Regions from separate parts of the Homo sapiens genome. Here regions 1, 2, 3 and 4 are each linked to region 5. Evidence: fine-mapped expression QTL. A gene starts in region 5. Each other region holds a variant in brackets. All regions are shown on one strand. Distances are from middle to middle.

Region 1 (6,470 bases), 61 kb before region 5:
ACGCATGAACAAAGCCATATCCTTTTGCAGTGGGGTCGAGAGAGAAAGTAGCACGCCCGCCCCCTGCTGCGTCTTTCTAGGCCCTTCTTGCAAATCCCGGGCATGAGCTACTCGCCGTCGGCTCTCTGCCACTTCGTCTCGCTCCCTACTCTCCTCCCCTTATTCCCGAGGCCCAGAAAAGAAAACAAAAACAAAAACCCAGCACATACAAGAAACATACAGTGTACCTCAAAAGGGGCCCTTGAAATGTCATCAAAGGGTAATAACCTAGTGAGTGAGTTGTGATGTCATCTGGAACATAGGAAATGGGGCTCTTAGCGTATTCGGTACGAAGGAAGCCAGGCTGGTCCTGGCAGGAAGTAAATGATAATCTTTGGGAAACCAGGACCCTGCCTCCCAGCCCAGAGGTGGAGGAGGGCGGTCAGGGTGGGGTCTACAGTGGCACAGCACTGACAAAGGTAGAGGGAAATGTAATAGCACATCTACGCTGCAGTCTGGTGAAAGTGGCCGGGGTGGTCCTTGGAAAACAGTTGGGCTGTTCTTGGCAGGAATTAGTGACAGCCTTTCCGTCACGGGCAGGGACGCCTTGATTTAAAAAAAATAAATAAATAAAACGTCTGGGTATAGACTTTTGAGCCTTGAGCAGGGCCTCCTACCTGGCAGTGGGGAACTGCAGTCTTCCTCCTGGCAATAAACCTAAAGCAATAATGATGGCCCCTTCTCTGTAAGACTTCCCAGGTAACTGTAAATAAACCTCAGCTTGATCCTCACAGTGTCTAAAGTTGCAGGGGCTTGGGAGGTTAGGGTCACAGTCTCACTTGTCTGGCCCTCTCGCCCCCTAACATTAGAAATCTGCTAGCATTAGCTTTCTCTCCATTGCTCATTCACCTTGGTGACCCAGGCATCGGGCTCCTAGTCACTGTTCTCATCAAGGACCAAGACACCAGATACCCCAGGCCCCAGTTTTCTTCCTTCAGCTACCACATTCCTTAGAACCCAGAAATCTGGCTTCATAATTTTGTTCCTCCTCTTTCTATGAAAGACTTAGCTATCTGCCTTTATTTGTTTGTATTTAAAGTAATATTAGCCATACTTGTTCCTTGTACTTCTCATTTCTCTCTCGCTGGACACCCACACATATGCCAAGGAACCTGTGGCTGAGGGGGAGATGCTGTTCTGAGGTTGAGGCTTTGTGATTTGGTGGAGAGGTAAAGTGAAGAATGGTCTGAGGTTGAGGGAATACAGAGAGAAGGAAAGATGTTATCATTTCACTGGAACAGAATTGGGTGGAAAGTTACAACCTTAAAGATCACAAGGTAGAGGAGGATGAGCTCTGCCTTCCTTAAATACAACCTGCCCATCTCCCTTCTACCCGTCCTCATCCCGCCTTGATCCAAAAGCTGGGCAAGCAAAGTAAAACCAATTTCCAAAAGAGAAAAGTCAGCAGCATGCCATTTACTGGATTAGCAGCCAACTGCATCAACTAATTAATACTTAAATCCACCCCATCATCTCCCACTCATTTTGCAAGACTGTGGAGGAAACAAAGAAGTAAAATATATTACTAAACTATGATTAGTTATTCTGTAACATACGAGAATTTATCAATCCCAAATAGGATTCTCCTTAAATAGTTATCTTAGAGGGTTATACACTTATTTTAATGAACCTGTCCCATTGCTCAAAATATTAAAAACAAACAAACACCATTCCTCCTAGAATTACCTTCAGAGAGAGTTTGGAAACGCCTTGATTTAAAAAAAAAAAAACAAAAAAAAAAGCCTTCCTTTATTGTCACGCCTCCTTTGTATATGGACATTTGCCATATTTATCACCCACCTCATTCATTAATTTAGCAAGTATTTGTCTATTGAGTCCTATTATGGTATAGCACAGGGATACAAGGGTGAACAAAACCAGACTCAGAACCTTCATATATCTTGCTGAGGAGAGAGACAATCACAGAACCACCAAATAAATACAAACTTCTTGTCCAAAGTCCAGAGGAAAGCACATGGTATTACTGAGTCTGTAGTGGTTATTTGACATGGTGAGGTTACGCTGAGAGCTGAAGCATGAATAGGTGTTAATAAGGGTTAAGCAAGAGGGTTAAGAGCATATGCTAAGGCCTGTGGCAGAAAAGAACATACAAGCCAAAAGTACCCAAAGCCAGAGTGTCTAGAGAGGAACAGAACAGAAAGTGAGACATGGGTAATGGCTGGGTGCGGTGGCTCACGCCTGTAATCCCAGTACTTTGGGAGGCTGAGGCTGGTGGATCACTTGAGGTCAGGAGTTTGAGACCAGCCTGGCCAACATGGCGAAAACCTATCTCTACTAAAAATAAAAAATAAAAATAAAAATAAAAATTAGCCAGGCATGGTGACACCCACCTGTAGTCCCAGCTACTCAGAAGGCTGAGGCAGGAGAATCACTTGAGCCCAGGAGGCAGAGGTTGCAATGAGCTGAGATTGCACCACTGCATTCCAGCCTGGGCGACGGAGCAAGACTCTGTCTGGAAGGAAGGAAGGAAGGAAGGGGTAAGTTCAGAACACACAGGGACTTACAGGGCACATTACAATGTTATATTTATCTAGGCTGGGCGCAGTGGCTCACACCTGTAATCCAAGCACTTTGGGAGGCCAAGGCAGGTGGGATCACTTGAGCCCAGGGGTTCAAGACCAGCCTGGACAACATGGGGAGACCCCATCTCTACAAAAATACAAGAATTAGCTGAGCATGGTAGCTCATACCTGTGTAGTCCCAGCTACTCGGAGCCTGAGGTAGGTAGGTGGCTTGAGTCTG[G/A]GAGATCAAGGCTGTAGTGAGCCAAGATTATGCCACTACACTCCAGCCTGATGCTCAGAGCAAGCTCCTGTCTCAAAAAATATATTTATCATACAGGGAAAAAAAAACAGTAGGAAACCCTCTATATCCGTTATCTATTGATACACAACAAATCACCACCAAAGTTAATGGCCTGAGATAACTTTTTATTTATTTTTATTTTATTTTATTTGAGATGGAGTCTCGCTCTGTCACTCAGGCTGGAGTACAGTTGCATGATCTCAGCTCATTGCAACCTCCCTCTCCCGGGTTCAAGCGATTCTCCTGCCTCACCCTCCTGAGTAGCTGGGACTACAGGCGAGTGCCACCATGCTCAACTAATTTTTTGTATTTTTAGTAGAGACAGGGTTTCACCATCTTGGCCAGGCTGGTCTTGAACTCCTGGTGATCCACCTGCCTCGGCCTCCCAAAGTGCTGGGATTACAGGCGTGAGCCACCACACCCAGCCACTATTTATTTATTTATTTATTTATTTATTTATTTAGAGATGGAGTCTCGCTCTGTCGCCAGACTGGAGTGCAGTGGCGATCTTGGCTCACTGCAACCTCCGACTCCCTAGTTCAAGCGATTCTCCTGCCTCAGCCTCCCCAGTAGCTGGGATTACAGATACGTGCCACCACGCCCAGCTAATTTTTGTTTTTTTAGTAGAGACGGGATTTCACCTTGTTGTCCAGGAGGGTCTTGATCTCCTGATCTTGTGATCTGCCTGCCTCAGCCTCCCAAAGTGCTGGGATTACAGGCGTGAGCCACCGCGCCCAGCCACTTTTTATTTATTTTTAAGAGGCGGGGGTCTCGCTCTGTCACCCAGGCTGGAGTGCACTGACATGATCACGGCTCAGTGCAGCTTCGAAGTCCTGAGGCTCAAGTGATCCTCCCACCTCAGCCTACTGAGTAGCTGGGACGATGTGCACCACTGAGCCTGGCTTTTTTCTTTTTTTTTGTAATGATGGGGTCTCACCACGATTCCCAGGCTGATCTCAAATTCCCGAGCTCAAGTTATCCTTCCATCTTGGCCTCCCATAGTGCTAGGATTACAGGTGTGAGCCACCACACTCAGTAGAAATAACTTTTAAAAACTGTTCTTTTTCACGATTCTATGGGCTTGCTGGGAGTTCCTTTGCTGTTTTCACCTAGGCTCACTCACGTGGCTGCACTCAAATGGCAGGTGAGCCAAGCAGGAAAATGCAAAATGGCCTCACCAGCATGTCTGGTTGTTGGCTGGCGCTCCTCCGTGTGGCCTCATCCTCACATGGTGGTCTCAGGGAGTGTTCCAAGGGGACAAAAGCAGAAGCTACAAGGCCTCTGAAGGACTAGGTTCCAGAACTCACACATCACTTCTGCCACATCTATTGGTCAAAACTAGTTACAAGACCAGCCCAGATTCAAGGGATAGAGAAAGAGACCCCAATTCTTGATGTGAGATGCAGCAAAGTCACATTGCAAAGGAATTTGGGGCCACCATTAATCTACCACCACATTAAAAGCTTTTTTTTTTTTTTTTGAGATAGAGTCTCACCCTGTCGCCCAGGCTGCAGTACACTGGCACGATCTCAGCTCACTGCAATCTCTGTCTCCTGGGTTCAAGCAATTCTCCCACCTCAGCCTCCTGAGTAGCTGGGACTACAGGTGCACGCCGCCACGCCCAGCTAATTTTTTGTATTTTAGTAGAGACAGGGTTTCCCTGTGTTGCCCAGGCTGGTCGTGAACTCCTAAGCTTAGGCAATCTGCCCGTCTCTGCCTCCCAAAGTGCTGGGATTACAGGCGTAAGCCACCACACTCGGCCCATCATGTATTTATTAACAATAGATACCTACCAGTTCCCCCTTTTTTTTTTTTTTTTGAGACCGAGTCTCATTCTGTTGCTCAGTCTGGAGTGCAGTGGCGTGATCTCGGCTCACTGCAACCTCCACCTCCCAGGTTCAAGCAATTCTCGTGCCTCAGCCTCCCAAATAGCTGGGACTACAGGTGTGAGCCACCACCCCCGGCTAATTTTTGTATTTTTAGTAGAGATGGGGTTTCACCATTTGGCCAGGCTGGTCTTGAACTCCTGACCTCAAGTGATCCACCCACCTCGGCCTCCCAAAATGCTGGGATTACAGGCAAGAGCCACCATGCCTGGCCCTACCAGTCCTTTTTTAAGACCAAAAAGTTTTGAATTGTGACAGCATCACTGTAATAAGTAGACAGCTTCTCCCATGATCACAGACAATACCATTCAAAAGTTCTGAAATGTTTGCTTAAAAATGATGGTATACCTCCTCAAAAGAGATTACCCTCTAGGTTTTAACAATTTAGGTTTAAAAACCAGCTTTGCATTGCCTGTGATAGCTGGTAAATGCCATGGGTGTGGAGAAGCTCATCATGCACATATTGGTCAAGATGGATGGGTGTTGAAAATGTTGGGTACTGGCCGGGCGCGGTGGCTCACGCCTGTAATCCCAGCACTTTGAGAGGCCGAGGCGGGCGGATCACCAGGTCAGGAGATCGAGACCATCCTGGCTAACACATTGAAACCCCGTCTCTACTAAAAATACAAAAAATTAGCTGGGCGTGGTGGTGGGCGCCTGTAGTCCCAGCTACTCGGGAGGCTGAGGCAGGAGAATGGCATGAACCCGGGAGGCGGAGCTTGCAGTGAGCCGAGATGGTGCCACTGCACTCCAGCCTGGGCAACCCAGCAAGACTCCGTCTCAAAAAAAAAAAAAAAAGAAAAAAAAGAAAATGTTGGGTACTCAGAAGTTAATGTGAATTCAGTATAGGCTGGGGGCACAGGATAACAATAGTAGCTAATATAGTACTTACCTGGTGTTTTACTGTGTACTGGACACCATTTGAAGCACCTTACACATATAAGTTCATTCAGTCCTCATTATTATTATCCACATTTTTAAAACTAGGAAACCAAGGCCCAGAGAAATTAAGTAACTTGCTCAAAGTGTCACAACTAGTAAGAGGTGGAAGCTAGGATCTGAACTCAAGCCAGCTGGCTCTAGACTGTGTTATCACCCTCCATAACAGAACCTGGGCTGCAGGTCCAGGAGAGGAGGGTGAGGAGGCAGCTGTGTGTGGGTGTGGCACCATGAGGGGAATGTGGGTTGTGAGTACCATGTCCTGTTTACCAGTGGGAGAAGTCAGACCCCTGAGTCAGAACTTATGCTGGGGAGCTTTGCTGGGGCCATCACGATGTGTGGGTGTCCAGGCCTCCGGAAGGAAAGGATTCCCAGCATTCCTAAAGCCATGGTCCTGGCATCTAGGTCCCTCCTTAGGCTGAGATACCAGCTGAGAGTTAAGCAGTTTGGGGAGAATGAAGTTTAGGAAGCCAGCCTTACAAACAACACAGAGAGGTCATCTATAATGAGAATTGAGGGCAAAATCGATTCAAAGGCCCAGGGACCACTAAAGGTTGGGCAGAACGGGCCGTGTTTGGAAACTGGGTGGGATTGTGAAACTAACTGCGAGCAACTGAATAGGCGGAGGGGGCTTTAGAGACTTGTGCCAGTGACTGAGGGCTCAGGCGCAGAGAGAGACCCGGGGCTTTGTACATGGTAGAATTAAGGAGCGCTGGCGTTGCGTTGGGGGAAGAAGGAAAGCCCCACCCCGCTCCCCCGGGAGTAGGGAGGAATGGGTGCTTT
Region 2 (5,316 bases), 30 kb before region 5:
AGCGTGTGGTAATCCTCCTCAGAGAACACATGCTCCACATCCTCCAGGCCCCAGGTCAGAAGCAGAGTTGCTGATGACTTCTGTTCCACTTGCTGCGGGAGAGGGGCTTTGGTGAAGTAGGTGCTCCTCCAGCCCCTATTCCAGGCCGCACACAGGCCTGTCTACCTACCCACTAGCTTCCCTGGGCTTTCTTGCTTCTTGCCCCATTCTCCAGTCCAGTCTCCATTCCTCCCCTCCTCATGCCCGTCTTTAATGCAGATTTCTCACTCTCATTCCCTAATTCTACTCACCTTTTGCCCCCCATCTCCCTCCCCCTTTTTCCGCCGCTTTGTCTTCTTCTCCTTTTTTTCTCGGTGCTTCCTTCTTCGTTTCCGACCCGGTCCGGTTCCATATTCACTGCCCCCACTCTCTGACTTCTCCCGGTACTCATCTCGCTCAGAACCAAATTCCTCCTCACTGTCCTAAGAGAAAGAAATAAAAATAACATTTATTCATCCCTACCATTGCCAGAAACTGTTCTCAGCACATACCATATCTTACCTCTTTTAATCTTCACAACAATCCTGTGATAGTAACTAATTTTTTATCTCCTTTTTTTTTTTGGAGATGGAGTCTTGCTCTGTCACCCATGCTGGAGTGCACTGACGTGATCTCGGCTCACTGCAACCTCCACCTCCCGGGTTCAAGCGATTCTCCTGCCTCAGCCTCCTGTGTAGCTGGGATTACAGACGTACCACCGCGCCCGGCTGATTTTTGTATTTTTAGTAGAGACGGAGTTTCACCACATTGGCCAGGCTTGTCGCGAACTCCTGACCTCAAATGATCTACCCGGCTCAGCCTCCCAAAGTGCTGGGATTACAGGCGTGAGCCACTGCAACCGGCCTTTATCTACTTTTTACAGATGAGGAAACTAAGGCACAGAGAGCCAAATAAACGGCCTGGTATCCTAGACAGAGGAATGCTGGACTCTTGAATTCATACAGTCTTCCAGAGCTTGTGCTTTCAACTGCTTCTCTTTGCTGCTGAGGACACACTGACAACGAGGCTCTTCACTAGGTTGCAGTGAATGAAGTTAGGGTCCCAGATCCCTGAGATACAGGCCAACAGTGGCAGGGAAGTGGGGGGCCCGGGGGATCAAGCCTCCCTGGCTTCAGAACCCCACCCCCACACCAGTAATCAGGACCAGAGAAAATGTAGGTCTCTGAGAATGGGTCTCTTGAGCCTTGCCACAGAGTTAGGAATTCTTGACACTTACACGCTTCTTGCGTTTTCGGGGTTTTCCTGGCTTGTTCTCCTTCTGCTTCTTGGGTCCTCGTTTTCTCTTCTTCACACCCAATGCTGACGGCAGCAGCCGAATGTCATCCTTATCTTTGAAGCAAAAAGCATCAGAAAACCTAAGCCTCTAGGTTTCCAGCCTCTGAGGCCCCTCAACTTGCCCCTTCCCCACCTCGGCAGTTCCCACTCTCTAGGAAGCATTAACTCCTCCAAGCCCTGCCTCCCTTCACTGGATGCAAACAGAAAGTGTTTCGAGTACTCTGGGATGCTCTGGTTCTGAATGGGAGGTCAGGGGTCAGAAGAGAAGAGCAGCCAAACCACTCCCCTCCCTCCCCTCCTACTAACAAGAGACCAGGCTCCAGGCCATGGGCTCTGACTGTGGCAGGTCCTTTCAGTCACCGCCAGGGCTCCTCCTGCCTTCCCCCTCACTTCGCCAGCTGGCATCCTGCCCAGGAACTGGGGAAGCCATGCCCAGCTGCTGGCCTGGCCTGACCCCAGCACTTGGAGTGGGGAGACACAAGCTGGCAGCTCCCTAAGCCAGATGCTGGGGAGGGAGAGCCAAAGGTGGACACCTGGGTTCTCACACTAACACCCTGGGGCCCTGACATC[C/G]TTTTGCCAAGAGGGAGGCCTCTATTTACATTTCCTCGGATAATTACCAGGCATCCTGTCACCCCAACACAGTCCTGGAGGAAAAGAAATCCTCAGCTGGTCATTTTTACTTCTTGCCCACAGGATCACAGTGTCTGCCGCCTTCATCACACAGGAGAAAGTCTCCACAATTACCTAAATATTCCTCCTCCCAAGTAGCCTAAAACCTACCTTCAATTCTATTCCCATCTCCCTGCTCCCTTTGGGAACTAGGGGGCCATACCCTTTGTTTCCCGATCTCACCCTTCACCTCCATATTTTGTTCCAGATATCCTGACCCATTCATCTATACGCAGTATGGGAGACCCAAACAAAGATATAGGCACAGACAGACACACCCAGCATATGCCTTCTCAAAAGCACGCGCGCGCACGCGCGCACCCACACCCACACACACTCTCAGGCCCACAAATCCAGAGGATGGCCTGTACCTGCTTCAGCAGGGATAGGTCCCTGGCTTTCTCCCCAGATGTCTCTGCCAGAGGACCCCAGGCCCCCCACCCCATTATCTGTGAAGGTGTCACTCTGTGAAGGCTTGGGGAACGGAACGGAGAGTTACCCCACATAAAGGAAGACAGGATGCCCCACAGACCTGGGGCCCTGGGGCTCTGGTTCACGTCCCTCCCCTACCAAGCACTAGACTAACCAGCCAGACCTGTCTAGTACAGAGAGAGGCAGCCGATGCAAGATGGGAAAGCCTGGGCTTGGCCCAGCCCCTAGCTCTAGGACACACAATCCTTTCTCCTTCCCTCAACAGCCAACGGAAAATTAGCCACAATTAACACCAGAGGCCTCCGTTTCCACTGCCTCAGAGTCGCTGCCTCGCCTTCCTTCAGTGCCACCTTTCCTGCTAACTCCAGCATCCTGTGTCCCCTTGTGCAGGAAGACACTCTAGGACTGTGTGCGTGTGTGCAGGGGGGTGGCTGCCAGAGCCCGGGTGTGAAACGGAATGGGGACTGTAATAGGAAGTCAGCAAGGAAGGCGCCATGCCCCAGCAGCCGGCTCCCCCTGGCCCCAGGGACTTCGGTTGACTTGAACATGGAAACGCAGGCTGCCGAGGCAGTGGCAAGGGCAGGCCAACTGGCTAAGGTTCAGGGACACGGCCTCGGCCACCACCAGCCAGGGGTGGTGCACAAGCCGGTTCACTCTACTCCCCACCCCAGCGGGAGGTTCCCGAACTTGGGCAGGCGTCGGTGGCGGGAGAGGCAAAGCGAGAACGGCAAGGAAAAGCAAGGAAGGGTAATAAAGCAAATCTAAGTCCCAACCTCGGTCTCAGCAGCCACTCAATGCTGGCCTGGAGCCCAGACTCTCCCACATCCCCGGCTCGGATCTCAGGGAGGCAGGGAGGAGAGAGGCGGGGGCCGGAGGGCGCAGGGCGGAGCCTGGCCGCCCGAGCAAGCGGGAGGAGTCTCGGCCGAAGCCTCGCCTCCCGCCCGCCCCTCTCTTCTTCTAATCTCACCATCAATCTCTCACACATATATTTATTTTTTCTCAAATTCCCCTCCCTCCCCCACAACGCACCACCATAATAGGTCTGCTGCACATGCGTACTGCAGGCAGGGGGTGGGTTTGTATTTTCAGACCTTTTGCAAAGAAACTACCAGAATTTTCCGCACCACCCACAATCATTCCCCACCCCCACCCCCAAGGAATCACATCTATATATTATGTTATATTATTTCTCTCGACTTGCCAGAAGGGGGAGGGAGAAGAAATGAGTTTTTGGCTTCCTGCTCCCTTCCCCCACCAACACGACTGCTATTATTTTAAACGTTTAACAATGTAAGGAGACTGGAGAGAGGGGGAAGGGATAAAATTGGTCTTGAGTAAGAATGTAAAACAAAATGGTGAGAATCAAAGCAGTCGGAATGGAAAACAATGGAAATCTCTCCTGTGCACAAATGCATACTCTAGACAAGGAAGAGCGAGGGCAGCCTGAACAAATTTCCTTAGAGGAGGGTTCTTTTCCCCACACTTAGGTAGACAGAAATAATGAGTGTGCTAAAAATAATTTCCCGAAGTTTTACCTCCGAAAGTCATCTGAGGGGGTGTATCTGGGTCACTCATTCGACTTGGAGGGCTGAAAGGGAGATAAAAATTGCCCAGGGGGAGAGGGGAGGTGGGTTTTCATTTCAGTTGTAAAATGTAAGCAGCCTCTGACGTCTCTTCTGGTCTATTCAGAAAGCCAAGAGGGAAAGGGGAGGCCGGGTTGACACAAAGACCCATCTCAACCTCGGATCCTTTCACGCTTCTCTCCCCAACGTACCCAGATCCGGGACCCACACCACCCCACCCCAGACTCCAAGTCCCAATACAAATAGGTGAGCGCTGCCAAGCCCCTGGCAGGACCTGACGGCCTTTCTTTCCCTCTTTTCAGCGCCTCTGCCGGAGGCAACCCCAAAGGCACCCTCTCCCCACAACTCCTCATTCCTCCTCCTCCTGCCAAGGCAGGGGGCTCTCTGGGAGAACTTTTTCAAAACTTTACCCTTTTTCAGACAAGCTTGGGGGGCGGGGAGACTTTATCCAGTTTCCAGGAGACACACATCCCTCCCCGACCCACAAGAAAGCACCCCCCGCTCCCCCAAAGGTCGTCTCGGCTAGACAGGAACGTTTGCCACAGAAGCCACACGGATCAATATGACAGTTTTACAAAGAGCCCGGAGTTGGCCGTTTTGAAGTTTGGTGCATTTGTGCCGCATGGCAGCCAGAGGCCCGGGGGTGCGGAGGTCCCCCTGCTGTTCCCCAAGCAGGGGGTGTGGACACCCAGATGCTCACCTATCCCAAAGAAGACTAGAAATCACTCCACTAGGAGGGTGGTCTGAGGGGGACACCGCTGGGCGCCTGACGCGGCGCAGCGGTCTGGAGAGCGCCGCCCAGAGAGTGCCGCCGGGTGACTTGTCACCTCGGGGGACGGGTGCTGAGTGATGGTCAAGCTGCAGAACAGCTGGGTGGGCAGTTCACGCCCCCCAACGTGCTCAGGGAGTGGGTGGTTTCAGCGAGAGAGTGAGTGACAGTGAATGGCAGCCACGTGAGAGTCACAGCTGGGCAGCTTGGCCACCCCAGACTGACGGGGTCAAGAGGGGGACCCCCCCCACCGCACTTGACACAAAAGAGCCCAGAGCCCCGGCGAGATGAAGGGGGTGGAGCCGGGGGTATCTGGTTCCCCAGACACTCTTCTCTCCGCTCCCCAATCCGAATGGACTGCTGTCCCTGCACAGGCTGGGGGAGCGAGGGGACGAGCTCCTGCCTTATTCCAGGAAGTGGTCTGCGTGGACTGTGGCCACCACCTGCCCCTACTCATCAGCAGCCCACAAACATTCACAAGACCCCTCCCTCGCGTGCCACCGCATGCCCCTCAGTTGGCGGGCACCTAAGTCTCCGCGGGTGGAGGGG
Region 3 (6,470 bases), 23 kb before region 5:
TGAAATTATTTTTAAAACAACCCCCCCTCCAGCACCGCCACCCCCTCCATAAAGAAAGGGAGAGGGGGGAAAATCCCCTTTTCAAACAAAATGGCTGGCTTAATATTTCATTTTTCACCCCCCCATTCTCCTCCCTGTTACACCCCCATCTCCAAGCCTTTACCCAGAAACCCACAAATTTCTCCTTTTTCATAACTGATTAGTGCACAGATTAATAGAGATATTTTCCTTGTGTACTGAAGTGTGTGTGTGTGTGTGTGTGTGTTGGGGGGGCATGAAGGATTTCTGCATAAAACAAAAATGGCTGCTGTGACTAACTCCCCCCTTATAAAAAATATTTGAGGGGGGGCATTAATCAGTACTCATGCTCAGTCTGACATCAGCATAAATTGTTAAAGGTTAACTAGTTAGATACTAGTCCAACTAGATTTAATTTTTTTTATTTTCTTTACTAGTCTCTTCCTCCCCACCTCCCTTCTCTAAAGAAAAGCTTTTTTTTTTTTGAATACTTCAGAAGGGAGTGGTTTGATGTGAAGGTTTTTTTCCCCTTCAGGCATTGAAAAGGAAAAAGATGAAATATATGTTTATATATAACTCTGTTTCTACATACCTCATTGAAGTCACAACGCATTTAATTGTGTACATATCTTTTAAATGAGAAGCGGGACTGGATTTTTTTCTGCTTTCTTTAAAAAAAGTGATAGAAATCCTAGTGACTTTTGGGGGAGAGATATGAATAGATACGATGATTGAGTTTTTTTCAAAGGAGTCCATGTTTGATTCTCCCCTTTACCCAGCCTTTTCAGTGATTTATAATTGTTATAAATTTTATCTTTACTCTTTTCCCCTTTCCCTCGCTTTCCCCTCCTCCAATTGTTAGAATGTAAAATTCAACTGACTTGAGAAATTAATTTGGGGGGTAAACAACAAATTTTTAGGATAAAGAGGAAAGAGTCAAATCTGAAGATCGTGAAATTATGTTCTCTTTTCTTCCGTTTCAGTATATTTGCCTTCCCTCCATGATCTCCAACACTATCCGATAAAGTAGAAGCAACTGAGGTACCGTGAAAGAGAAAGGAGCTGGAACTGAGAAAAAGCAGAGGTAGGGGTTATACCCAGGCGTTTTCATCTAACTTTCTGACCTGTGATTTCCAACTGTACCCCAGTGTTTATGGTAAAGTGGTACCAGGAATTGGACAGTTGGAAAGGAGTCCCAAAGTAGCTTTCTCATACAGAGATTTGCCCAGAGAGGTCTAGACAGAAAATGATCCTTGCCAAATGGAGCAAAGGAAGGAGGGCAAATAGCTCAGTTCTACCCTCTTTCATTCTTGTTGACCCTTTCTTACTCTAGCTTCCTCCCATTCCTTTGATCTCCCTTTGCCCCTTCCCTTGCTTCCCATTCCATGCCTGTGGAATCATTTCTCTCTGGGTTATTCCTCTACCTCTCCAGTGTAACTGCTGGCCACCCATCTTCGGCGGTGCTCAGGAGCACCCTGAGAGGGAGGGGTAGGTGGGCAGCAACCAGAAAGTATTAGTGACTGGGAAGATGACGCACATTTTTGTTTATGAAGCTAAAATGTTCTTTATTAATGTTCCACTCCCCACACTAATGCACTTTATTGGGTGTTGGTTTCCATCTCTTTTTTTTTTAACCTGGCCTTTGGAATTCTCTTGCTTTGGTTCCCACATCATTTCTGTACTAAGTCTAACTCCTCCTCCTTTTCCAGTTTTCCTGTCGATTTTGCTCTCTTGTCTTCTTTCTCTGTCCCTCTTTACTAGTTCATCTGGTTATCCCCCCCTTTCTATATTGTGGGCTTCTCTCTATTTATGTCTTTGTTTTTAACTGAGACTATCCTTCTCATCCCTTGGACCCTCAGGCTCTGTCACCTCTACGTGACTTTCCATCTCTGTCTTCTTTCTGCTTACTTCTGTCTTCCAGTCTCTGACTGTGTGTGGCTCTTCCTCATGTGTGCCTGACTCCCCCTCTTTCTGGCCCCTTCTGTGTGTGTCTGTGGATCATACTGTGTATGGGAAGTGTCTCCACGTGTATGTGGGCCACACTGCGCATCATGTGCGCCGCAGCCTCTCTGCCTCTGTGCCCTCTCCCTATACTGAGAGCCTCTGCTTGCCACATGTGCCATGATCTGCAGGTGCGGGTGGCTAAAGGTGGCCGTGTGCATCCCTATACAAACACTCATCATTCTCTCTCTTGAGTGTGCTTTGCATGTGGATTTGCTAATTTGCCTTATTCTCCCTCTCATCCATCCTCCCTTTTGCCTGTCTGCATCTCTTTCTGTTCTCTCTCTCTCTCTCCTGACCTCTTGATTTTTCTTCTTCTCTCCTTATTTCTGCCTCTTTACCTGCTTGCTCCTGTTATGGTGTCTGCCTGCCTGCCTGTCTGCTCCTCCCTGACTGGCTGGCAGCCTCTTTTTCCTCTCTGGTTGTCTGTCTGCTTCTCTGGCTGTTTGCCCACCACTCTCTCTCTAGCCATCTGTCTCCCCGCCTGCCTGTCTCTATCACTTTTTTAGCCTGCATCTCTCGGTTTGTCTACCTTCCAGGCCCTGCCACGGCTCCCCATCTTGGTTTGCCTCTTCTCTTGCCCTTCTGCTTGTTCCTTCTCTTATTTGTGCCTGTTAAGTTCCTCCTTTTCCCTTGCCTCCCTTTAGATCTCTCTTGCCTGTCTACCCTGTTTGCTGCTATCCCACCGTTTCAGGCTTTTCTCTCTTTAGTCTTCATACTTACCAGCTTTTTCTTCCTTTGCTTCTTCTCTGCCAACTTCCATCAATGAGGATAGTCTCTCTCCCCTAAACCTCTCAGTAACCCCTTTGCCTCAAAGTCTTATCTAACTTCTTGCCACATCCCCTACCCTGCCTTCTCTCACGTTTGCCTTTATTTCAGTTATCTCTTTTTCTGTCTTTCTGGTTCCTCAGACAGTCTGCCTGTCTCAGTCTTTTTGCCATTTTCCCAGTCTCTCGCTGCCTTCCTGCCTTTTTGCTGTCTGCTTGGCAGGCTCTTGCTGTCCACGTCTCTTCTTGCTTTTCTCTCTTCTTTTGTTTCTTTTTCCAGTTAACTTCTAAATAGGTAGTACATACTTATGGTACAACATTTTAAAAGTACAGAAAGTGTACTGTGAAAAGTAAACCTGTCTCCCATCCTTCTCCCCTAGTCCCGGAGTTCCTCTCCTCAGAAGCAGCCACTGTTTCACATTTCCTGGATACTGCTCCAGAGAAAAGTCTACACATATACAAGTCTTTTTGCTTGCTTGCTTTTGCTTGTGTTTTGCTGTACTCCTCCCTACTTTTCTTCCAGTTTTTCTGGATGCTCCTTCCTCTGTCAGTCTGTCAGTACTCCTAACTAACTTGGCTGGGCTTGCCATCTCTGGTCTTTTTGATTCTACCAAGTGTTACCCAAAGCACGTGTCTTTTGGATTGACTAGTTACTGGTTGCATGCGTTCACTACCAGTACTTGAGGAGTGCTCAGGAAGGCTTTACTCTCTCCAAATGTAGTCTACTCTGCATGGTAAGTGGTCTGATGCCAGCAAGACATCTTTGTTGGTCGCTTCATCACTGAAATGTGTATTGGAGAAGGCATGAAAGCACCGGTAGTACTAAAAAGTACCCTATAAATATAGGCACTGTTAATAAGTAACAGTAAGCTGAGCTTACATGCACA[CAG/G]AGTAGGTAGAGGACTGCCCTGCTTTCTCACTTAGTCTATATGAATTCTGTAAGGTCATGTGAATCCAGATCCTTTAGGTTGTCGACCTAGGCCTAAGAAGTTTGTCTTCCTCCTAGTCTAAAAAGCTTTCTCCTGATTAAAGCCTTCTGGCTCCACTCACATGCCACCTTAGAGACATTTTATAACTCTTTGAAGGAGACAAAGACACAACCTCTAACCAGGTCTCTTTGAAAAAGATGATAATAAAACTTCTACACACAATGCACTGTTCTTTCATTTCTGCTTTTTTACTGCCTGTTTTCCTGAGTTTAACTGTTTCAGCCTCTATCTTTGTGTCTCTCCACTCTTTCCCTCTTTCCCTCTCTTACTTCTCTTTTCTTGGTTCTTTCTTCTTATCTGTCTGTCTTGATCTCTATTCTAGCCTCTTTTTCTGATTGGCCCTCTCCCCTCTCTTCTGTCTGATTGGCCTGTATCCTTCCATCACCCCATCTGTCTGCTGGATTCTCCCTGTCTGCCTGCAGTAATGTATGTGATAGCACTTTATAAATTATAAAGCACTATGTTGTATAAAACACCATTATCACTTTGTCTTCCTTCTTACCTTATTTTTTCTTCCTTTATCTGTCTTCCCTTCTTCTCTCTTTCTCTCTCTCTCTGTTTGCCTGTCTGCATCCCTTTTGGTGATTTTGCCTGCCTTCTCTGTCAGTCAATCTCCATTCCCTCCCTGCCAGCCTATTTTTCTGCCATCCCTCTTCTCTGTCTGCTCAGTTCTTGCATCTCTCCTTCTGTGTTTCCAGGTTTCTCTATATTTCTTTTGCCTGTGTAGTCTCTCTGTCGTTAGGCCTTTTATCTATGCCTGTGTGTCTCACTGTCTAGCTGCTTGTCTCCCTGCCTGTCACTTTCATTGTGGGGCATCAGTCTCTGCCTTCTTCTGTCTTTCAGTACTTCAAAAAATAAAAATTAAATAAAAAATTTAAATTCCTTATGATTAATGGGTACAGGAGAATATTTTTTTTGTTTTAATGAGAAGACTATTAAGGTGAGAACAAAGAACTCAAATATTCAGCTGTGAAATGCAAATGAAGAAAAATTTTTAAGGGACTCTCAAGCCAAGAATAAGATTATTTAACGCAAAAGCAAGAAACATATCTAAAGCAATAATTTCTAACCTTTTAGGATCGTAGAAAGTTAGAAACTTTCTCCAGAAAAAAAAAATACACACAAAATGTCACATATGTTTTCACGGTGTTACGAATACCCTGAAGTCTTGGACCCCAGGTTAAAACTCTGATGTAGGGAACCAGTGATAATCAGTGATAGAGCACAGACATGTACTCATACAACAAGCAGAGTAAAAGACTGAAAAAACACTTGCAATCTATGATTTTCTACCCAAGGATATGTTAAAGAGATTCCTAATTGTCTTTTGAAATATGTAGGTCAGTGATAATAATGAAAGGCATGTAAATACTCAGGATAGTCTAGACCTAATCATAGTATTTTAGAGATGGAAGGTCTTATAAATCAGTGGTTCTCAAATGGCTAAGAAAGGTTGCCACATGTCCTTTACTGGAAAAGTCTGTCCTTTATTCTGAGAGGATATATTTCTGATATATATTTTTACATAGAATAAATATAGTATACAGTATATTTATATAGGATAAATATATGTATATATGCTTATATTTTATGTTATAAATTATGTTACATATTATTAAACATATATACACATATACATATTTATAATGTTAAAAACTTCCTTTCTAAAGCTGAGATAGATCTGTATGGCAGAATGTGAGTAGATTTTAGTGGGGAAGGGGGAGGAAAAGAATAAGAAAATGACTTTTTATACTTACTGTACAATCTGAAAATTTTCAACATGTACTTCTTTTATAATTATACAACATTTTAAATAATTTTAAATATCTTTTTATGAGACGTAGTTTCATCCTTGTTGCCCAGACTGTAGTGCAATGGCGCGATCTCAGCTCACTGCAACCTCTGCCTCCCGGGTTTCAGCCATTCTCCTGCCTCAGCCTCCCGAGTAGCTGGGATTACAGGCGCGTGCCACCACCACACCCGGCTAATTTTTTGGATTTCTAGCAGAGGCGGGGTTTTACCATGTTGGCCAGGCTGGTCTCGAGCTCCTGACCTCAGGTGATCCACCTGCCTCGGCCTCCCACAGTGCTGAGATTATGAATTTTGTTGTTCTTAATGTCCTTACTCAGCACAATGAAAAGTCAGCAACCCCATGTTGATCACTAACTTTTTTTTTTTTTACATTTTATTGATCATTAAAATCTAAAAGTCTAGGATTTACTGCTTTAATCTAACCTGTTCTTGATTTTATCAAGGAGGAAACTTCAGTCCTTCATATATCATATTCATGATTTGCCATATCTATATATCAGCTATACCATTATATGCATACTATTTTTCTTTAAATCACTCACCTTTCTTTAACTTAAATGAATGTTCTTTAAAAGGTAAATTTTATATTGCTAGAAATAATATTCATAAGTCTTTAATTTGATACTGTAATTATGTTTTTCTTTCTAATTTAAAATGCAATATTGTTAAAATAAAAATCAATAAAAGTAAAAGCATCTTGCATGCTACTAATAATATAGGTACATATTTTAGAAAATATCACTTTAATCTAATTTTATAGGTATAGAAACTGGGGCCTAGATATTGAAAGGATTACCTAAGATCAAGTTAGTAGTTAGAGACAGAACCAGGACTTGAACTTTTATCTTTCGGTTTCCAATCTAGTGTTCTTCTACTATATACT
Region 4 (5,000 bases), 62 kb after region 5:
TTGATTCCTTTTCTGAGATTTAGGAACCCTCCCCGCCCCGCAGCATACACGCGACACCATCCTACACCCAACACGGGCCAGACACGTCTGCCCATCTGGCTGCCATCTCTCCTCTCTTGTCACTGCAGGAATGTATGCATCTGATCTTTTATTCCTAGCATTTCAGAAACCCAGCCGTACCATCTCGGAACTCCTGCTTCCGATAATGTTTGGTGACCTCGATCTGGAAGGTGGTGTAGTCGCAGATGGATGAAGCCAGGCGGGCCAGACTCTGGCGTCCGCTGCCCCCGATACCCACCAGGAGCATGTTGCCCCGAGGCTGTCCAATGACCCGCACGATCCGTGTGACTGGGGGTGGGGTGGGTGTGAGGGTAATGAGTTGGCTGAGCAAACTCAGGGGACCTCCAGGCCCTAGGCTAGGGATTGGGGCCCCTGAAACTGAAGCAGAGGAACCAAGAGGTATGAGAAGAAGTTGGTGCCCAAGGCCCAGGAGGCAATTCAACTTTTAACCTCCACCTTCTCTGTTAAACACACACTGCCACAGGGCATCTGGGGCCAGGGAGAAAGGCAGCTTCTGGAACTTGATTTGGGAGACCTGGGAAGGGACCCCTATTTCCTTAGACATACCCCATCACTGAGATGATGGGGAAGGGGATAGGCGTGGCAGGTGCTCACTGTGTTCAATAGCCTCTCGGAAGAGCACTAGCTGCATGGGCACGACAGAGGGTGACAGGTTATACTCATTTAGAGCTGTCTCCATGACTGTCTTCAGCACTGTCAGATCCGTGAGGTCTTCATACACCTTGGGCTCCTTCAGGAAATCCCCTGAGCCATGGGAAGAGGGGATCAGAGTCACAAATGCCTGGTTTGCCTCCCCCCACAGGGCTCCACACTTCAGACCCCATGCCCTGACTCCTTCTAGCCCCGATGTTCTAAGAGTGTCAAGCCCAAGGTCATCACAGCTCCTGGCTCACCAAAGATAGGAGGACGCTTGCTGGGACAGAGATGATGAAATGTGAGGTCAAAGAAGGAGCCGAGCTTGTCGCTTATGATGCCCATGAAGGCTTCTGTGTCTGCCGCATCAACCAGCCGGTCAGAGAAGACTCTGTGGGCAGGGAACTGGGGTGAGATCGGGGAATAAAGAGGAGAATGGCCTGGGGAAGGCAGTGTCAGGCTGGGAACAAAGTAGGGGTGGGAGCAAGGCTGAGGAAGCCTTCGTTTGGCCAGGGCACATGCATGTCACCTGAAACATTCATGGATCCAGAGCCGTGTGATGCTGGACTTGGTATCATGGAAGTCCTTGTTGGCTCTAAGCATGCCCTGGAACACCTGGGAAGAGGACTGACTGTTGGGACCAGGGAGCAAAAAGATTCCCTCCAGAAGTTTTTTTTTTTTTTTTTTTTGGGACAGAGTCTCACTCTGTCTCCAAGGCTGGACTGCAGTGGTGCAATCTCAGCTCACTGCAACCTCTGCCTCCCAGGTTCAAGCAATTCTCCTGCCTCAGCCTCCCATGTAGCTGGGACTACAGGCGCGTGCCACCATGCCCAGCTAATTTTTTTTTTTTTTTTTGTATTTTTAATAGAGACAGGATTTCACCATGTTGGCCAGGCTGGTCTTGAACTCCTAACCTCAGGTGATCTGCCTGCGTTGGCCTCCCAAAGTGCTGGAATTACAGGTGTGAGCCACCGCACTTGGCCCAGAAGTTTTAAAGGTAAGGCCAGGGAGTGTGGCACTTCAGCATGGGGGTGACTTTTGGTGCGCATGCTAGTGAGTGTTAAGGCTTAGTTTGAGAAGAGAAAGCCTCCGCGGAGGCTGGGCCAAGCAGAAGGGGCAAGGTCAGGCCGCGAGTCACCTTGGAGATGTCTCGAAGGTTGAAGAGGTAATGCATCTTGGTGGGCGTGGGCAGGAAGCGCTGTACCACGGTGTTGTACATGTCCAGGGTGGCCTCTGTCACCACGTTCCCAATGGGCTTCACCTCTTCCTCAAAGTCCTGAAGCTTCTGATTGATCATGGTGCCGAATATGCGGATGATCTGGGACTTCTAGAAACAGACCCTGGCTCACTCTCCAGGGCTGCTGGCCTTCTAGCCAGAGGGGAAGCCAATAAAGAGCTTGGCTCATGGGCACAATTTAAGGGGGTGTCAAAAAAAATCCTAGGGCCGGGCACGGTGGCTCATGCCTGTAATCCCAGTACTTTGGGAGGCCAAGGCGGGCAGATCACTTGAGGTCGGGAGTTCGAGACCAGCCTGACCAACATGGAGAAACTCCGTCTTTACTAAAAAATATAAAATTAGCCGGGCGTGGTGGCACATGCCTCTAATCCCAGCTACTTGGGAGGCTGAGGCAGGAGAATCACTTGACCCCAGGAGGCGGAGGTTGCGGTGAGCCAACATCGTGCCACTGCACTCCAGCTTGGGCAATGAGTGAAACTCTGTCTCAAAAAAAAAAAAAAAAAAAAAATCCTAAACTCAGAAATAAGACAACTGACAAATACTATTATATAACACTATATATATATATACTATATATTTATACATATTTATATTTATTTATTTATTTATTTATACTGCAACTTCCGCCTCCCGGGTTCAAGCAATTCTCTGCCTGATCCTCCCAAGTAGCTGGGATTACAGGTGTCCACCACCACGCCCAGCTAATTTTTTGTATTTTTAGTAGAGACAGGGTTTCTCCATG[G/A]TGGTCAGGCTGATCTCAAACTCCCAATCTCAGGTGATCCACCTGCTTTGGCCTCCCAAAGTGCTGGGATTACAGGCGAGAGCTACTGCGCCCAGCCTTAACACTATATATATATGTATATAAAATAAATATATATATATAAATATTATATATATATATATTCAAGCTGGTGTCCAATGGTGCAATCATGGTTCACTGCAGGCTCGACCTCCTGGGCTCAAGCAATCCTCCCACCTCAGCCTCTCAAGTAGCTGGGAACACAGGTGTGCACCACCACACCCGGCTAATTTTTGTATTTTTTTGTAGAGACAGGGTTTCCCCGTGTTGCTCAGGCTGATATCAAACTCCTGGGCTCGAGTGATCCACCTGCCTCAGCCTACTAAGGTACTGGGATTACAGCTGGGAGCCACCGTGCCTGGCCAACACAGTATTTAAAAACAAAAATGAATGCAAAATATTCATGAGGAACAAACACAAACATTTAAAATAAAGACCAGATGGGGATTACTGATTTCTCCTTTCCCCTTAGGCTCCAATATGGCTTAGCACTGTACTCTACTGATTTTGTATTTATTCAAAATGGTGGTATTTTGCTCATCATAAATTATTGGCATTAATTTTAATTTTAAAAAATATTGCATTACTACAGACTCGCCAGTACTAGTGGCCAAGCCTCAATACCTTCCCTGTTCCCCTGGGATCCCTTGGCCCCACATACTTCTCCAGTTCTCCTTCCCACTCCATAGGATCAATAAAATGTCATAGACAGGAAAAAAAAAAGTGAGGCCAAGTGTGGTGGGAGGCTGAGGTTGGTGGATCTCTGGAGTCCAGGAGTTTGAGACCAGACTGGGCAACATGACGAAACTCTGTCTCTATTGAAAATACAAGAATTAGCTGGGCGTGGTGGCGGGCGCCTGTAGTCCCAGCTACTCTGGAGGCTGAGGCAGGAGAATCACTTGAACCCGGGAAGTGGAGGTTGCAGTGAGCTGAGATCATGCCACTGCATTCCAGCCTGGGCAACAGAGTGAGACCCTGTCTCAAAAAAAAAAAAAAAAAAAAGGAAGTGTTAACATATTATTTCTCCTGATTACAGAGTCTTTTGGGTGCCCCCTTAAATTCTGCACTGAGACAAGTGACTTGCTGGCCTGGCTCTAATCCTGACACTGCCGTGGGCTTTGTAGGATCTACCTTCCTTAGTCTACTTGGGCTTCACTGTGTTCTCTGCCCATTGGGACTACAAGGCTTCCTTGTCCACAGCCAGGAAGGTACGCTTCCAACCCGTAGCTCTCCTAGCTCAGGAGCCAGCACATGCCCTTACGGATCGTCCCAGCGTCCTGCGTGGAGCTCCACTTGGGGTGCCGCAGCCCCCTGGGATCTGGCCCCTGCTTCTCTGAGACAGACACGTTTCACCTCCTACCCTCCCCTCGTCCTGCAGCCCCCATGAGGTCCTCACTGTGGGGAAGGTCATGTTGATAATGTTGAAGCGACTCCGTAGCCTTGGGGAGATGACAGTCCGTCCACCCCCAGGGGGGCCCATGGCAGCCATCAGGAACATTTCCTAGAGAGCAGCGACAAGGAGGGCAGACAGGCAGGAGGGGAGAGGGCAAGAGAGGCGCCGACACAGGCCAGGTGAAAAGGAGTGGGAGGAAAACAGTGCGAGGAGGGACAAAGGGGAAGAGGAACCGGGATGCAGCGAGTTGAGAGGAACATGGAGTGGTAGGGCAGGGGGAGGGGAAGAGAAGGAAGGGACATGGGAAACTTATTTTAGTACCAGGAATGCATTTGTCTGTATTTCATCCTTATAATCCATGTACCCAAATGAGAAAATACAGGTAAGTAAAAAAACATTTGTGTCTTCTAGACTTTCTCTTTCTTCTTTTTCTCTTTTTCTTCTTTTAAAATTGTACCTATCTATACACGTGTGTGTGTATGTTCTCTCTCAAACACACATGAATATAGCACTAGGCGAGTTTTTGGCCCTGAGTGCCAGATATACACACAAACAACCCCAGGAGCCAGGCCGCGATGGCCGCTGATTAAAGAGAAGCAGCCGGGAGCATGGCTCAGGCCTGTAATGCCAACACTTTGGGAGGCCAAGATGGGAGGATCTCTTGAGCCCAGGAGTTCAAAACCAGCCTGGCCAACATATGGGGACCTTGTGTCCACTAAAAATCATAAAATTAACCCGGCACCCCAGCCTTGGCAACATAGCAAGATGCTGTCTGAAAGAAAGAAAAAAAGAAAGAAAGAAAGAGAAAGAAAGAGAAGAAAGAAAAAGAAAGAAAGAGAAAGAGAAGAAAGAAAGAA
Region 5 (6,447 bases):
ATGGTAACTTGGAGAAAAGAAGATAGGTTCCAGAGATATTTAGGAGACAGATTACACTTGATGAGTGACTGGATGTGTGAGGAAAGGGATGTGTTTCTAGCAAGAGACATTGAAGTAGGAGTCTCTGGAAGAGGGACAGGTTTTGGCAGAATGGGGACATCCTGTAGGCACAGGACAGGCCCTGAGGCTTGCACTAGAGGAACAGCATAGCTTTCATTCTCAAATAGTTCAGGGTTTAATTGAGCAAACAAGGTACACATAATTGCAGAGTTGATTAAAGATCAAAATGATCGATTTAGATAATTCATGGACTCCTGCATTCCATGGGGTTAGATTTAAACCCTCCATCTCACAGTAAATTCAGATACTGCCGAAGCCAACAGCAATGTTTCCACCTTTGTTCATGCCTCCCAAAGCCCCTCAGAAAATGCCTATATAGCCCACCAGTATCTCACAGGGGCCACCTTCTCCTGTGCTGGGCCCTGGTGTCCCCTGCCAGAAGACACACTAAACTCTTCCTGATTTGTTTTTTGCTTGCTGCTGCCAGGAAGTTCAACTGTCTGTCATTCTCAAATCTCCCCTCCTTAAGTTAAAGGAGACCAAATCTAGCCATTACCCCCAATAGTGGTTCTCTTTTGGTCACCAGGAGAGTTTTCTGACTTAGTTAGCATCTCTGTTTACATTACCCCTGTCGAGCTCCCTCTTTTGGAGTCACCGTCTTGCAACCCTGTCTTCCTCATCTTCTCCAAGTGGCAAACTGCCTCCTTTTTCTCCCTCGCCAAAGTGTCACTAATTTGCCGGCCTTTTCCCCACTCTAGTTTTCCTTCAAGTTAGTAAATACCCACCTCTTTGCCCCAAAAGGTCAGGAGAGAAATCTGGGGTATGGGATTAACAAAGAAGTAGCCCCAATAGCTATTGCTTAACTGACACTTAGCCTTCCTTGCCTCCTCTTCGCCACAGGAGAACTCTGCAAACTCCCTTCCAGAGACAATAACTGCAAACTATACAATAGGACCACAATTTCCTATTGTGCAGGGATCCTAGGACAAAGCCACATCCCAAATACTTGCTGAGAGCAGTGGCTACAAATGTTAACATGAGATTAGACATTGAGATGGTCCCTTTATATTGAGAGAACATGGACTTTGGAGTTGGGCAGACTTGAATTTGCATTCTGGCTCTAGTGGTTACTACCTAGTGTGGCTTTGAGCTATTAAACTTTCCAAAGTTTCGAAGGACTTATCTGTAACATAGTAATGGTAATCCACCTTATGGGGTAGTTGTCTTGAAGAGGCTATTTGGGAGGCTGAGGCAAGAGGATCACTTGAGGCCAGGAGGTTGAAACCAGCCTGGGCAACACAGCGAGACCCTGTGTCTACAAAAAATTAAAAAATTAGGCATTGTGGCGTGCACCTGAAGTCCCAGCTACTCAAGGCAGAGATGGGAGGATCACTTGTGCCCAGGAGCTCCAGGCTGCAGTGAGCCATGATTTTGCCACTGCACTCCAGACTGGGTGACAGAGCAAGACCCCTTCTCTTTGTTGGGGGCAAAAAAAAAAAAGAGGGTATATGAAGTACCTAGTATAATATCTAGCCTGAATTGCCTATAATGACGCACTTCCTTTCTTTCCCTTGGGTTTCAGCTGCCAAACACTCTTCTACAAGTAAGATAAGCCAGCTTTGTATGGTCAATGATAAACATTTCCTATTTCTTTGTAAATCCCATCTTCCTGCAGACATCTCATTTCCATCATTGCCAAAAAAGTCCTTCCATCCCTCACCCCTGTAGAACTACTCTCTCTTAACTATCAAACAGTTCTGCCTGAACTCTGACTATCCTCTTCTACATCTCCCTAAACCAAGGTACTTGATCTTCTTGTATCATTCCCAAAGATTAATTCACTAATTTTCTCAGAGCAAACTGTAATGAAGGCAGGGAATAGGGCCTTTACACTTCAGAAGGGCACAGGCTAGCTCCTGGAGAGGAGTGGAGATCTGGGTCCAGGCACCCCTCGGCCCCACCACTTTTCCTCAAGGCACAGAAAAAGCCAAACTCGAAATACGTCTTGAGTCTACACGAGTGTACATCTCCTTGCCTACAACTCCGTGAGATCATCATTGAAGTACAGAAGTATTGCAGGTGTGTGAAGTGTACCGTCCATACTGAGATAGTCAAATTCTTCCTCCTCATCCCGGATCCCATTCTCTTCCAGGGTAAAATCCATGTTCAGGTTCTTCCCTTCATATTTCCACGTGTAGCTGGCAGCATGTGAGTTATAGGGGAGATAGCGGTGTAGGATTTCCCATATGGACTCCAGAACCCCCACCTGGAGAACACAGAAGCACCCCACCCCCAGAATTCTGGATGGAGTATACATATACACACGCTGGGATCAAAGTGCCTCCCTTGGCAGATAGCAGCTTCAGGTACTCTACGGCCCCGGGAAAAAAAAGCTGAAACTCCAGCATGCAATGAGCAGACCCTAAAGTCCTACAGATCTTAATGGCAGCCACTTCTAACTACCGGATGGCCATAAAGGGTCAACTGTCCCCTCACTATATCCATGCAACAGAGTAGATTAAAAAGAAAGTCCAATTGCTGTCCAAAACGGCGTGTAAGAGCTTCGAAGGACCACCATCACTAAGATACATGAACTGCTGTTCCCAGGCTTATAAAGGAGTCTCTTGTCCCCCTGTGACCCAGACACTCCTAGAATTCCCAACCCTGGGGACCTAGGTGCTGTGCTTTCCTCAGTTGCCTCAATGTAAAGGACAGAAAATACACTCCCACCGGTTATGGAAAAAATGTTGCCCTGAAGATCGGCCTGGAGATTTGCTGGGATTCCCCATTCCTTCTAACCTGCTCCTTGTCACCAGTTCTCACCTCCAGTGTGTGCTCCTGCGACGTGAGCGTGTTAATGATGCGGATGCTCCGGGTCTTGGCAGACAGCCGCCCCACCTCATAATACGACCCCTGCCACCAGGGCTTCCCAAAATCGTTGGCCCAGTCCGAACAGGGCAGCTGAGGCGGAACGTGCACAAAGCGGCCCCGCGGGGTGCAGTACCTCAGGCAGCCGGTCAGCGGATCTATGTGCTTGCGGATCTTTAAAGGAGGGTTTGGGGCGAGGGTGTCAGAGCAGCCATTAGGCTCTGGCTAGCCTCCGCCTTTCCTTCCCATCCCCGCTCTCCATTTCCTCTACCCACAATCCCAGGTTCCAGCATAACTCACGTCTCTGGTCTTTGGATCAAACCAGTGGCTGATATCCTGGCCTGCAACTTCCACGATGGGTTTCAGCAGCAGGTTCCCTTGAAAAGAGCAGCACAGCCACTGTCAATGCCAGCCCTTCGAGAACCAGGCAAACGCGCGCGTGCACACACACACACTCCGGCCCCGGCCCAACGTGTGGCCCTTACCCTTGTATTCCTGTGCCAATGACGTTAGGTCGTACACGCGTCCCAGGTAAGATACCCAGAGGTCTTCGGGCCTGTTATGTTGGGCCACCTCCGCCGGCGTGAAATAGCGACGCTGAAAATACTCCAAGTCTGGCCCAGCCACCAGGCCCCGGCGCGGCATGGCTCTTGCTCTGTCGGTCACTGGATCTCTTGGTTACTCCTTTGCTCCTCAGCACGTACTCACTACTACTACGACCTCCGTCGCGTCCGGGAGCCGAGGGGAGAGCGTTTATCCGCTGACATGGAAACCATTGTCCTTTTCCGGCCACCGTCCACTGAGATAAATATCAGGGGCGGGGTTTGGACTGCACGTGTTCACGGGAAACGTAGTATGAGTCCCGCGTGGGGCATATAAGGATCAAGTAATTGAGTTGCGCCGCTTTCAGGAGTTGCGGGGTGGGGCAGAGAACGAATACGCTCCGTTTTAATTCAGTGGCCTGGGCTACATGGGATATTTAGGACAGACTATCTCTCTGAGACAGAAAAACAAGGGAGGAGGCAGTATGAAAGAATGTATTCTCGCTAAATTCCAGTTTCTAAAGGATGTGTAAGAAACCAGAGGTAAAGGTCTCGCGATATCTTAAGACATCCGGCGTAGTACGCTTCAGTGAGCCACAGCGCTAGAGAAGTAGGAGAAGCTCGCGAGATCTGTGCCGTTGCCGAGGAGACTAGGAGGGGGAGGAGAGGGGATCTCGCGAAAGGAAAGAGGTCGGGAGCGCTCGCGAGATCTCGGACCACCCAACCTGAAAGGTGCTTAGGAAGTTGAAAGGCCCAGAGGAGGCCTCCGGGCAAATGGCCGGAGCTGGACCGACCATGCTGCTACGAGAAGAGAATGGCTGTTGCAGTCGGCGTCAGAGCAGCTCCAGTGCTGGGGTTAGCACGGGCTCTGGTTCTGGGACTGAGGGGCAGTCAAGCAGCAAGATGGAGGGGGTGGGGAACTGCAGCTCCCGGCAGCCTCTGGGCTTTGTGTGAGTGCCCCGCGGGCTGCCGGGAGCTGTGGTTCCGCGGGCGGGCAGCCTGGGCTGCGCGGTCTGAGCGCTTGTTACACCCCGCGCAGGATTCGGACGGAGAGCGCGAGGACTCGGCGGCTGAGCGCGCCCGACAGCAGCTAGAGGCGCTGCTCAACAAGACTATGCGCATTCGCATGACAGATGGACGGACACTGGTCGGCTGCTTCCTCTGCACTGACCGTGACTGCAATGTCATCCTGGGCTCGGCGCAGGAGTTCCTCAAGCCGTCGGGTCAGTGCCCGGGGAATGCACACCCGCCTGGTAATGTGGCGGAACCTTACGCAAGGCATTTCCCCTTAAGGGCCTGGCTGCAACCCTTGTTTTCTGGGGCTCGTTTTCGTGGCTCAGAGGGGCGGGACTGATTCTGGCCTACTTTCCTGATGCTCTGATCCTTCTTTCCAGATTCCTTCTCTGCCGGGGAGCCCCGTGTGCTGGGCCTGGCCATGGTACCCGGACACCACATCGTTTCCATTGAGGTGCAGAGGGAGAGTCTGACCGGGCCTCCGTATCTCTGACCACGATGGCGCTTACCTTTCAGACTTCATTAAACTTATGACCGAATGGGCCTGTGTCTGTGTGTAGCTGGGATGCCGGTGCAGGATAGCACACCCCATCCCTAGAGGAAAGGGCTCATCTGAAGTCGGGAGCACCCTCAACCCTCCTCTCCCAACCAAGATGTCCAGGGGTGCCAAAGGTTCTCTCAAGTTCAGGGGTAGAGATGGGGGGCAGGGCTGAATGACGGACCAACAGGCCCCAGGGTGGGCCCCTGCATCTTCCCTCCCACGGCTGCTGCTCCAGAATTGTGGCGGGAGGGGGTGTCATCCTGCTCCGGAAGGCCCATTGTTTCCCACCCCGGCCTGGCAACACCGAGTTCCTCTAAGCTGGGGTCAGAGAACGGGCTCAGGTCCCCAAGGGGAGCAGCGGCAGGCGGCCGAGGCTGGGCCCCTCCACTCTATTGAGGGGGAGGTGCCTGGGGTCAGGAACAGATCTCTGAGGTCTGGCCAGGAAGAACGGACAAAAGCGATAAGGCCAGGGGGCTCAAGGATGCTCCTCTCTGCTCATTTGTAGCCCTGGCACATGTTTCCTGTTCCTCGGCACAGGGCAGGGGTGATAGTACTTGTGCCACGCCTCTGTTCGCAGAGCGCGTTCAGTTCGTTAAATCTTTATTGATGCGTGGACACTCCTTCCCCTCCAGCCCCGCCCCCCAGCCCCAGAAATACTAGAGAAGCTGCACCATAAAACGAGGGCACGAGATTGTTGTCCCATTCACGACGGAGCTGAGGGGGAGGTGTGCAGGTTCCAGCCTAGATGTTCAGGATTGAGATGTGGGTCGTGAAAGGAAAGTGGGTTTTCCGGGATGTGGGGGCTTTTCTCAGCACTGGGTCCACTGACGCTGCTGCTCCCAAGGGGATGCTAGGACTCCGCTCAGGCAGGGGTGGGGGCAGGGCAGGTCGGAAGATGCCGGGCTTCAAGTCCTTGGGCCGAATAAGAGGGAGGGCAGCCGTCAGGGTTGTTCTTGACTCGAGGGTCATTAGACCCAGACCTTTCCTGATGTGGGAACGGCCTGGGACCCTGGTGAGGCCCGGATTTGCCGCGGCTGCGGGGCGCGCCGACGCCGATAAAGGGCTCGGCTGTAGGGCACGAGGCAATCGGCTAGGCGGAGGCGCAGGCAGAGGCGGCGGTAGCTGGCCAGAGCAAGCACGAGCAGCGGCACGAGGAGCAGGAATCCGGTGACCAGTAGGGCCGTGAAACCGGGGTCCCGCAGGTGCGCGGTGCAAGGGGGTGCCTGGGAGCGCAGGAACTGTGGGAGAAGAGGCGTCAGGCCCAAGCCGACCAGGCGATACTGTGCACGGGGTGGAAACAGCCCAGGCGGGTTGAAGTTGTGGCCCATAGACCCCACCGCCAGCATCACCACACACCAACACTCACACTCACACGCACACCCCGGGGCGCACGCTCACCTGAGAGTGGCAGAGGAAGCCGAA

What was found.
Region 1: its variant is fine-mapped to the expression of CYB5D1 in whole blood (TOPMed, PIP above 0.99).
Region 2: its variant is fine-mapped to the expression of CYB5D1 in whole blood (TOPMed, PIP above 0.99).
Region 3: its variant is fine-mapped to the expression of CYB5D1 in whole blood (TOPMed, PIP above 0.99).
Region 4: its variant is fine-mapped to the expression of CYB5D1 in whole blood (TOPMed, PIP 0.96).

What each region holds. Positions count from the first base shown.
Region 1 is chr17:7,916,481-7,922,950 of GRCh38, reverse strand. It overlaps KCNAB3 (potassium voltage-gated channel subfamily A regulatory beta subunit 3), which reads left to right. Exons shown (of 14, transcript NM_004732.4): 14 at 1-1,092. Among named protein-coding and RNA genes, the nearest start is that of RNF227, 3.4 kb to the right of the region's middle. The variant G/A (reference allele first, on the strand shown) is at 2,803.
Region 2 is chr17:7,885,716-7,891,031 of GRCh38, reverse strand. CHD3 (chromodomain helicase DNA binding protein 3) reads right to left here and starts at 2,243. Exons shown (of 40, transcript NM_001005273.3): 1 at 1,932-2,243; 2 at 1,256-1,368; 3 at 291-461; 4 at 1-92. The coding sequence starts at 2,031. RefSeq lists enhancers at 1,242-1,811, 5,131-5,180 and a silencer at 3,221-3,380. The variant C/G (reference allele first, on the strand shown) is at 1,885.
Region 3 is chr17:7,877,867-7,884,336 of GRCh38, reverse strand. It overlaps a transcript of NAA38 not described here. Among named protein-coding and RNA genes, the nearest start is that of CHD3, 7.7 kb to the left of the region's middle. The variant CAG/G (reference allele first, on the strand shown) is at 3,674.
Region 4 is chr17:7,793,505-7,798,504 of GRCh38, reverse strand. DNAH2 (dynein axonemal heavy chain 2) reads right to left here. Exons shown (of 86, transcript NM_020877.5): 49 at 4,147-4,251; 50 at 1,853-2,041; 51 at 1,244-1,329; 52 at 975-1,105; 53 at 676-825; 54 at 181-348. Among named protein-coding and RNA genes, the nearest start is that of KDM6B, 38 kb to the left of the region's middle. The variant G/A (reference allele first, on the strand shown) is at 2,694.
Region 5 is chr17:7,855,261-7,861,707 of GRCh38, reverse strand. It overlaps CYB5D1 (cytochrome b5 domain containing 1), which reads right to left and starts at 3,705. Exons shown (of 4, transcript NM_144607.6): 1 at 3,414-3,705; 2 at 3,229-3,305; 3 at 2,884-3,102; 4 at 1-2,326. The coding sequence starts at 3,573. The coding sequence ends at 2,096. TMEM88 (transmembrane protein 88) reads right to left here. Exons shown (of 2, transcript NM_203411.2): 1 at 6,424-6,447; 2 at 5,609-6,263. The coding sequence ends at 5,994. NAA38 (N-alpha-acetyltransferase 38, NatC auxiliary subunit) reads left to right here and starts at 4,149. Exons shown (of 3, transcript NM_001320925.4): 1 at 4,149-4,325; 2 at 4,510-4,693; 3 at 4,865-5,023. The coding sequence starts at 4,245. The coding sequence ends at 4,977. RefSeq lists enhancers at 2,728-3,589, 3,395-3,614, 3,943-4,237, 3,965-4,334, 3,590-4,452 and 2 more.